Regions from separate parts of the Homo sapiens genome. Here region 2 is linked to region 1. Evidence: fine-mapped expression QTL. A gene starts in region 1. The other region holds a variant in brackets. All regions are shown on one strand. Distances are from middle to middle. Region 1 holds the start of PTK7 (protein tyrosine kinase 7 (inactive)). Region 2 overlaps PTK7 (protein tyrosine kinase 7 (inactive)).

What was found. PIP is the estimated chance that this variant, and not a neighbour inherited with it, causes the effect.
Region 2: its variant is the best candidate, but not a certain one, in a credible set for the expression of PTK7 in coronary artery (GTEx, PIP 0.83).

The regions. Positions count from the first base shown.
Region 1 is chr6:43,074,009-43,079,241 of GRCh38, reverse strand. PTK7 (protein tyrosine kinase 7 (inactive)) reads right to left here and starts at 2,928. Exons shown (of 20, transcript NM_002821.5): 1 at 2,675-2,928. The coding sequence starts at 2,753. It overlaps KLC4 (kinesin light chain 4), which reads right to left. Exons shown (of 16, transcript NM_201521.3): 16 at 4,149-4,620. The coding sequence ends at 4,570. KLC4-AS1 (KLC4 antisense RNA 1) reads left to right here and starts at 3,012. Exons shown (of 2, transcript XR_002956347.1): 1 at 3,012-3,547; 2 at 3,975-4,909. RefSeq lists a silencer at 2,841-2,940 and an enhancer at 3,270-3,793.
Region 2 is chr6:43,135,185-43,140,417 of GRCh38, reverse strand. PTK7 (protein tyrosine kinase 7 (inactive)) reads right to left here. Exons shown (of 20, transcript NM_002821.5): 8 at 1,436-1,569; 9 at 1,147-1,282; 10 at 893-1,012. Among named protein-coding and RNA genes, the nearest start is that of SRF, 33 kb to the left of the region's middle. The variant A/G (reference allele first, on the strand shown) is at 2,549.

The sequences.
Region 1 (5,233 bases):
CCCGCCTCGGCCTCCCAAAGTGCTGGGATTACAGGCGTGAGCCACCAGGCCTGGCCGCACCCTTGGATTTTGTTATTCTCAGGGAGTCCTATTCCAATTCCCTGCAGATGCCAAGGAAGGACCATACTTTATCTCCATTGCTTGAGCTCTGTCCACCACTCAATGCTGCTCTGAACACCAGGAGTTTGAGTATATCATTTGACAAGTGACAAGAAGAGCACCCTTGCCCTGCCACCATACTTCCCAACAGCTGAGAAAAGCCATCACTAATAAAAGCAACTCCTAGGCCTGAATTACAGGCTGCAGAGCCTTGAGGAATCTGCAGACAGCCTATCCCAGAACATGACGACTCAATTTCCCCAAAGAAACAAGAGCCCGGAGGAAAGAAACCAGGGAGGGGGATGGGAATTGGAATGAGAAGTGACCACAGCTGACTGTACAAGAGGTTGGGGTTAAGAATCCATAGTTTCAAACATCAAGCCTCCTCCTCCTCCACCATATTTATTACAACAGCATCTCAAAGTTTGGAAAGTAACTCTGCCATTTATGGCATAATTACCCAGACTTTAAAATGGTCTAATCCACAAACCTAGCCAGCCTAGGTTCCTTACTCCAGCCTTATTAACAGTGGGATCTCACTACAACTCCAGTTAATTACACAATTAAACAATGAGATGCAAACATCTACTGTGATCTATTAAAAAACCGTTGCCCCTGAAGTCATGCGTCTGGGGGTGGGTTGAGTCCCAGGATTTCACTAGAAGACAGCAGGCGCCTCGGCCTCCACTGAAATTGTTTACAGCACATGGACAGGTTCCACAACAAGGCACATTTGGTGGAATTGATTTAAGGCTCTCATTAAAATGTTCCTTTGTTGAGCACAAGACATCCCCCCACCCCTGAGGAGACTACAGACCTCCTGTCCTAAGCCCTCAGCCTGCCCTAACTTCCCCCAACAGGATCCCCCACACACACGCGCGCACACACACTAAACACCAACCAGTCACCAGATTAAGTCAATTAACATCAGAGTCATCTTCTCATGGAAGGAATTTAGGAATTCAGCATTTGTTGAGCAAGAGCCCCATCTTCACCAGAAACTCCCCTTGACTCTAGTACCCTGAACAGCAGCAGTGAAGGCAGCCTCATTGGGCAGACCCACACACCAAAACCCAACCAGGACAGCCAGGGGGCCTGTGAGCTTGGGCTGCTCGCCCAGATGGCTGGGCCCCCATCCTGGCTGTGCAAAAAAACTTCCATACTTCCTCTGGGAGCAGATGTGGATTCTGCCACGAGCAATAACCACCACACACATCACAAGAAAAACGGGGCAACTCCAGAAACACCTCCTCCAAATCCCTGGAGATTGGTCTCTTTCCTGGGTTACATTTACCTCTCCTTTTACAACTGGGGGCAGGGGAGATGTTGATTCCACCAGCACCAAAACCCCTCCACAGCTGGCAGGCCAGAAAGATATTAGAAAGGCAATTCCTTACCCATGCCCTTCCCATTGCCACCTTCAAAGGAGATGGAAGGTGATCACCTAGGACAGGTCTCCTCGACAGAGCTCCCCAAGAGAAAGCTGCTTCGAGGACCACCAAGGAGTGTTGTGGAGGGTCGGGGGCTTTATTTCCAGTCCGGGCTATTTGGGATGTGCGGGTGGCTTGGTGCTTTCCTGTAAGGCACTTCAACACCTCAGTGATGACTCTTAGGTGTGACCAAGCCAGGAAATAAAAGCTGCGGGAGTTGGGGGGGCGGTGCTGTCTGCCCTGGTGATGAGGGCCACACCCTCGTTAAAATGCTAAGGCCCCCCCCCAAGAAAAGCCAGAATGAGCTCTTTTTGCCTTTCTTCCCTTAGAAATACTTCCTTTCCTCTGTGAGGACAGTCAGGATGGAAATCCAGGAAGGAGCAGAACAAACCCCGTCCGCACCTTTGCAGCCAGGCCATGCCCGATTTTGGCAGCGGCCTTCACACATTAGTCACCGCGACAGCCTGGGACCCTCGGATCCCCGGATTCGGCCCTGGCACGGAGTGGGCGCAGGGTTCCAGACCAGTAGCTAGAGGCCATGGATGGGGGCGGCCCCTAACTCTTCCCTTCTTCCGCCCTCACCCGCAGGGCCATCTGGGGTCTCAGCTTTGCCCAGGAACTCGGAGGAGGGAAGCCGGGAACGTCGGGTCGGCGTAGGTAACAAAGCTCCGCGCTTTGCGCGCCGCAGGTCTGTCCGGCATCGGGCCCCAAACCAGCAACTCTTACCTGGGCCGACCCTGCCGGGTGGGGTGGGGAATTCCTTTTTCTCCATCGCGCTCCCCACGGTGGGTGCGGATGGTCTTTTCTCCCCCGACAAGAAACTCCCCATCTGGGCCCGAGAGCCAGCAACTCTCGGCAGTTCTCGAGCAAACTCTCGGCTCAGACCAGAAAAACTCAGGGAGGCTGGAAATGCGTCCCCGCGGCGCGAGTGGGAGGGGTACCCTGACCGCGTCCCTGGAGGCTTCGCCAGCCTCCCGACACCCGGGCTCCTTGCGCCCTTCCGCCGCAAGCCTGCACCCCCAGCGAGCCTCTCCACTACTCCAGGGCCGTTCCAGCCGCCCAAACCCACCGCCCCGGGCGCAGCCTTTTGCCCACGGGACTCCCGCGCTTCCCAAGCTCTGTGCCCCCAACTCTCGGGTACTCACCGCCCAGCAGCGGCAGCAGCAGGACGCTGAGCAGAGGCAACCGGCGGGGTCTGGCCGGGGATCCCCGCGCAGCTCCCATCGCGGCGGGCTCAGGAAAAGGAGCTGAGGGCGCACGGCGGGCGCGCAGACTGCGCTCCGCGGCGGGCACAGGAGGCGGAGCGCACCGGAGCGCGGGCGCCGCAGCAGCAGCCGCAGCCGGAGCCCGACCCCGAGGCGTCCCGAGGCGTCCCGAGCCGGAGCCGCGCGCGCCCAGTACCTCCGAGTCCCCGCGCGCCGCCGCCGCCGCCGCCAAGCCCCGCCCCACGACGCCCCCTCCCCTCCGGCCCCCGCACGGCGCCCCGCCCCCTCGACGCCCCCTCCTCGCCGAGGCGGGGAGGAGCTCAGTAGGGGGAGGGGTCTGGAGAGGGATGGAGAATAGAGAGAGCAAGGCTCAGGGAAGTGCAGGGGACCTGAGTATTTGCTGTACCCACCACCGACTCTGCAGGGATCCGGGAGAACCTAAGTGACTTGTGCGATTCCGTGGACCCTGGGGAGAATGGTCCATTCTGGGCATACCTGGAGGCTCTGGCCAACAGTTCCCCCAGAATTCTCCAGGTGGGGGCAGGGGAAGAGGCGGGCCCCGCCAACTCTTCAGCAACCCAAAATCTTAACGGCAGACCCAGAACAGCAGGGTGTCCTTAATGTCCCCAAGTAACCTGAAGATGCTGTGTAGCCCGGAGAGGGGCTGAAGTGTGCATGACTGGGGTCTGGTTTGGCTGTAGACCAATCTGAACCCAAAGGTAGAAACACGCTGGGCTCTGAAAGCCAGGCTGAAGTCTGCTAACTGACAAATTCATCCCAAGTCCATCTCCAGGCAGTCTGGGCTGTGTCAGGGTATGGCCAAGTCTCCAGCTGTGGGGAGGCCCAGCACAACCCTTGTTCCAGGCACCCCCACCCCCAGCGCCACCACCCCCACATTCTTTCTTTGTTGTGAAAGCAGCAAGGGGTGTAGGAGGCGGGTCAGGAGGAGTCAAGCTTTAGAAGATGGGCCCCAGCTGCTGCTCAGGCCTCCAAGATATGCTGAGAGGGGATGGATAGTGCCTTGTCTCCCCTCTGGTTCCGGAGGGCCCCCCAGGCCTGTTTAGACCTCCCTTCCCCCAAGCAGCTGGGAGGAGGAATGGCAGCCACAGAGGGCCTCACAGCCAGGAGAAGTGGCGCCAGGACTCCAGGGTCCTGCCACATGGCCACCACATGTCCCTGACAACCCAGTCCACAGCACCTTCTCCTTGGGTTGTGAGCCTCCTTCTTCCCCATCCCCCAGATGCCTTCCTACAGGCCCTGCTGGAGATGATACAAACAACGGGAGGAAGAGAGGAGAGATCCAAGAATCAACACTCCTCCTGCTGCTCCATCCATCACTGCCCCTCACCTTCTGTGAAGGGCCCCAACACAAGCCCTGCTTCATACCCTCTTCAATCAGGACTCAAGTCACAGAAAGGTTACCTGATTCTTTTATTTAAGAAAAGTGAAATACATGGACCTGAAGTGAGACAGCAGAGGGAGGGAGTAAGAGCGGCCAGGGCAAGGCAGCTTGGCTGGCCAGCCCCCAACCCTCTGACTGAAAAGCCAGCAGCAGGCTGCATCTCTGAGGGCCATACCTGCTTTGTACCCACCTTGGGGCCTCAGAGCTAGCTACTCTAGAGGACCACAGGGTGCAGAGAGGGTGTCCTGAGGGTCCTTCCTAAGAGGGATTCCTGAGGAGGGAGCTGAGACCCTAAGGGCAGCAGCAATCTTCTGGTTAAACTGCTCCCCTTCACTGTCCCACCTAGGGGTGGGGAAGAGCCAGGAGCAATGGGGAATGCTGTGAGGGCTGTGGGGGTGGGGGGACCCAGCAGACCTGGGGGCCGGGTTGAATGTCAGCTGCTTGAAGAGAGGTCCATGGTGCTGGCACTGAGGCCCCGGGAGACCTGAAACAGACAACACTACCCCATCAGCTCAGGGACCTCGGCCTCCCAAAGACTGGCTCCTAGAGTCCATCCATCCCATGGTCACAGTGTATCTCTGGACCTAGGATCACATCTGTCTCTGGACCAGTCTATCTCTGGACCTGGGACTTTGTTTAGCCTCTGCTAGGGTTTTCCAGAAGGCCACAATCTGGTGGAGAAGCTACCTGGAAGAACCACATGAATACTGGCATATACTTGTGTGTTGATACAAGAAGTCATTTGCCATTAAAATATCACTAGTGTTTTCTCAGATGGGGATTATTTAATACTTTTCTTTTTCCATTCTCATCTACTACTAAGGCGGCTGCAGGATGAAAAAATAATTCGTATCTCCAAATAATTCTTAAATTATTCATAATTCCAAAGTACCAGTTTACAGAATATTCCTATTTCCCTCCTTATTAACTTATTTGCTACTATGTCTGGCCTGAAACTGTCCCTTGGTGGTCAGCACTCACCACAAGCTATCTGCCTGATTCCTTAATGACTGCAATCCCCTGGCTCATCTTCATCCCAGATGACTCCTCTCCCTTCCCTCTTCCCTTACTCCACTGGGCTTGCTCACTGGCTGTCC
Region 2 (5,233 bases), 61 kb before region 1:
GCAGTGGCACAATCTCGGCTCACTGCCACCTCCGCCTCCTGGGTTCAAACAATTCTCCTACCTCAGCCTCCCGAGTAGCTGGCACTACAGATGCGTGCCGCCACCCCTGGCTAATTTTTTGTATTTTCAGTAGAGACGAGGTTTCACTACTCTATGTTAGCCAGGATGGTCTCTATCTCATGACCTCGTGATCCACCCACCTCAGCTTCCCACAGTGCTGGGATTACAGGCGTGAGCCACCACGCCCGGCCTCTTCCAGTATTTTGTAAAGGAGCCCATGTAACTTTTGTTTCTTTTTTCTTTTGAGTCAGAGTCTCACTCTGTCAGCCAGACTCTGGTGCAATGGCATGATCTCGGCCCACTGCAGCCTCCACCTCCTGGGTTCAAGCGATTCTCCTGCTTCAGCCTCCTAAGCAGCTGGGATTGCAAGCATGTGCCACCACGCCTGGCTAACTTTTGCATTTTTAGTAGAGATGGGGTTTCACCATGTTGGCCAGGCTGGTCTCAAACTCCTGGCCTCAAGTGACCCACCCATCTCGGCTTCCCAAAGTGTTGGGATTACAGGCGTGAGCCACTATGCACGGCCTCCATGTAATTTTTATGTTGGAAAAGATAAACTATTTTGGAAAAGGGGAAGAGAGGACTTTACAGCACTGTCTGAACCAATCCAATCACTTGTTGCCTTGAGTTGTCTTCCATGTTGTCCAAGGCTATAATCTGACCTCTTCTGTGTCTGGCTTTTTCCTTCCTAACTAAACTATACATCAGCCCTGCACTGCTTGTCTAATCTCCACATTTCCTGGCACAGTGCGGGGCACCCAGCAGCCCTCAGGTATGTATCTGATCAGTGAACTGCCTGCCTGCCCCTACCCTATGCCGGCACTGTACCCACCTGCCCGTTCCCACTTAATAGTGGGCTTCTCTCGGCCTGTGGCTGAACAGGGCACCGTGGCCTCCTTGTCAAACTCCATGCACTGCTGTGGCTGGGGTGGTGGTGTGAACTTGAGCTTTTCTGTTTCAGCAGAGGGTGGGTAGAAAGACGAGGAATTGGGGCCGCTGGAGAGGCCGTGGCCAGGCCTGCTGCTCCCTCCCCTTTCCTCTCCTGCCTAGCCAGGAAGGGTGCTCCCCCAAGACATGCTGGCTCACCCAGCACTTGGACACGGGCTTGCGCCTCGATGCTGCCGGCTGGGGTGCTGCTCATACAACGGTACCATGTCCCATCATACACCTCCACGCTGTTGATGCGCAAGGTCCCATTCTTGAAGACCTCGAACCGTGAGTCCTGCAGCACAGGTGAGAGGCCTCAGAGCCTGAACCCACACCCACCTCTCCCTGGAGGCTGCCTCCAGGGTAAGAGTGCTATGGAGGTGAGCACAGAAGAGGGCAAGTGGAGGGAAGGCCCCGCCCATCCACTAGCAACACTCTTCTTTCTCACCTCTGAGATGAGCATCTGGTTTCTGTACCAGACAACTGTAGGTTTTGGTGTGGCCTGGGTCAGGCAATCCAAGTAGCCGGGTTTGCCCTCCTCCAGCTGGCTGTCTTGGGGCTTCTTCAGCCAGGAGGGCACAGCTAGACAGACAGGAAGGAAACAGTGAAGGCTGCTTCACAGGTCTCCAAAACTAAAGGATCCATCTCCAAGAAATCCTACTACCATTCTAGGCCCTGAGTTCAGAAGCCCCATGCTCCTCAGATGGCAGGAGTTTCCCTTTACGGAAGACCCAGGTGCCAGCACCTTTTTTAAAATTTTTTTTCTTTTAAGACAGGTTCTCACTCTGTCACCCAGGCTGGAGTAGAGTGACACAATTATGGCTCACTACAGTCTCGAACTCATAGGCTCAAGTGATTTTTCCCACCTCAGCCTCCCAAATAGCTGGGACCACAGGCATGCACCACAATACTTGGCTAATTTTTTTATTTTCTGTAGTGATGGGGTCTTGCTATGTTGCCCAGGCTGGTCTCAAACTCCTGGCTTCAAGCCTCCCCAAGTGCTAAGATTACAGGCATGAGCCACCACGCCCGGCCACCAGCACCTTTTGAACATTATCTTAGTTAACTGTCACATTAATTAACTTAGTTAACATTATCTTAGTTATAAGCCCCTATGGTAGGCAGGGAGTGGTGGCTCACACCTGTAATCCCAGCACTTTGGGAGGCCGAGGCGGGAGGGCTGCTGTAAGACACTGCACTCTAGCCTAGGCAACAGAGTGAAACCCCCATCTCTAAAAAAACAAAAAAAACAAACCCCCCAAGGTATGTATTCCAACACGCACTTTACAGCTAAGAAAACAGATGTTCAAAGAAGTAATGGTGGCCAGGCACAGTGGCTCACGCCTGTAATCCCAGCACTTTAAGAGGCAAAGGCGGGCAGATCATTTGAGGTCAGGAGTTCAAAACCAGTCTGGCCAACATAGTGAAACCCCGTCTCTACTAAAAATACAAAAACATTGGCCGGGTGTGGTGGCGGGCACCTGTAATCCCAGCTACTGGGGAGGCTGAGGCACAAGAATCGCTTGAACCTGGGAGGTGGAGGTTGCAGTGAGCCGAGATC[A/G]CGCCACTGCACTCCAGCCTGGGCGAAAGAGTGAGACTCCATCTCAAATAAAAGATAAAAAATAATAATAACAATAATAAAAAAAGAAGAAGTAATGGTGATTTGCTAATACCTAATAGTGACAGAATTTAAAACTCTGGTCTATATGACTCTGAAACCCTTGTTCTTCTTATTACACCATAAAATGCCAAGGCGCAGTCCTCAGAAATCTGTTCTGTTTTAGCAACACTCACTCATCCAGTCCACAACCTTCAATACAACATGAATGGTTGGTTCCCAAAACTACATCCTGATTCCTATAAATCCAATTGCCTACTGGCATTTCCAACTGGATATCCAACAGGCATCTCAAACTTTACGTGTGCTAAAGAGAACACCTGACTTCCCCCAAAACCTGCTCACTCATTTTCCCTATCTCAGTCAATAGAACTATCTAGTCAGTTAAGAAAGCCAAAAAGCTAGCCTTGTCTTCTCTCTATACCCCACCCCCATCACACTCGTTCTACCAAACCCTATCTACTGGGGCTCCTAAATATATCCTGAATTTGACCACCTCTCACCCCCACCGCTACTGCCTCTGTTCAAGCTCCTTCAGTATCTCCCCTAGACTATTATAGTCATCTACTTAGTATGGGTCTCCTTGTTTATACTCTTGGCCCTAACATTCTAGTCTCAAAACAGCCAGAGCGATCTTCTGAAAAATCAGTCTTCCACTCAAAACCCTGCAAGACCTTCCCATCCAATGTGGTGTGGTAGGCTGCTTGCAATGATAGTTATAAACAATCCTCCCATCCCTTTCAACTCTTTTCAATGTGATGTTGACACTTTCCCATCAAGAGGTAGAGTTTATTTCTTTTTGTGTGTGTGAGACAGGGTCTCATCCTGTTACCTAGGCTGGAGTGCAGTCACGCCACTATGGCTTACTGCAGCCTCAGCGTCCCAGGCTCAAGCAACCCTCTCACCTCAGCCTCCAAAGTGGCTAGGACCACAGGCGCGTACCACCAGGCCCAGCTAATTTTTTTTTTATTTTTAGTAGAGACGGGGTCTGGCCATGTGGTCCAGGCTGGTCTCAAACTCCTAGGCTCAAGCAGTCCTCCCACCTTGGCCTCCTAAAATACTGGGATTGCAGCGTGAGCCACTGAACTGGGTCATGGTGTATTTTTCTAGTCCCTGGAATCTGAGTGGCCTGTGACTTCCCTTGTCCAACAGAACACAGTGGTAGTACTGCAGCTTCCACTTTTGCCCTCTCGGAACCCAGCTGCCAGGTGAGGAAGCCTGGCTAGCCTACTGGAGATGCCATGTGGAGGAGAACTAAGGCACCCTGGTCAATAGCCCCAGTCAACTGCCAGACAGGTGAGTGTGGCCGCCAGGGACCAGGCCAGCTCACCCATCAGCTGACTGCAAACGTGTACACCCAGCCGATAGCACACCAGGTAGACGAGCGGGCCCACCTGAACCTGTCCACAGAATCATAAGCATGTCAACGGCTGTTGTTTGTTGTTTCAAGTCACTACGGTTTGGTTTTTTTTTTTTTTGAGTTGGAGTCTTGCTCTGTCACCCAGGCTGGAGTGCAGTGGCGCGATCTCTGTTCACTGCAACCTCCACCTCCCAGGTTCAAGCGATTCTCCTGCCTCAGCCTCCCAAGTAGCTGGGATTACAGGCATGTGCCACCATGCCTGGATAATTTTTTTTTTTGTATTTTTTATTTTATTTTGAGATAGAGTCTCGCTCTGTCGCCCAGGCTGGAGTGCAGTGGCGCAATCTCGGCTCACTGCAACCTCCGCCTCCTGAGTAGCTGGGATTACAGGCACATGCCACCACACCTGGCTAATTTTTGTATTTTTAGTAGAGACGGGGTTTCAGCACGTTGGTCAGGCTGGTCTCGAATTCCTGACCTCGTGATCCACCTGCCTCGGCCTCCCAAAGTGCTGGGATTACAAGGCGTGAGCCACTGCACCCAGCCATTTTTGTATTTTTAGTAGAGATGGGGTTTCACCATGTTGGCCAGGCTGGTCTCAAACTCCTGACCTCAAGTGATCCACCTGCCTCGGCCTCCCAAAGTGCCACCACGTTTTGAAGTGGTTTGCTATGTAGCAATGGATAACTGATGCCGAAGCCAAAGTCCTTACTATGCTTTTACAAGGCCTATGGGATTTAGTTTCCACCTCTCAGGCAACTTCAACCCCTCTCACCATCGTTTATTCAACTCAAGCCACACAGGCGACTACTGTTCCTCCAACATACAAGCCCATTTCCATCTCAGGGCCTATCACATGGCTGGCTCCCTTCTTAATTTAAATACCAACTCCAATGCACCTTTTACAGAAGTCTTCCCTAAACTCTCACTGGCCCTGCCCTTTCTCTATCACTTGCCCTATTTCATTGTTCTCCCTTGTTCTACTGGCACCTAAAATTATATTTGTTCATTTGATAGTTTTTCTTACTGGCTTTGTCCCCGCTGTTAGAATATGAACTCCACAAGGAGAGGGGCTTCTGCCTGCTTTGTTCACAGTTGCATCCAGTACTGGGAAGAGCTAGCACAAGGTGCTCGACAAATCTCTGTTGACTGAATGCATTCCCAGAGCTCTCCGTCTTCTGGGCTCTACCCTCTAACACCCAGCACCTGATCTGGCCCTGTTTGCATCACACACTCTCAAATGCCACAGGCCTCCTTCTCAGAGCACA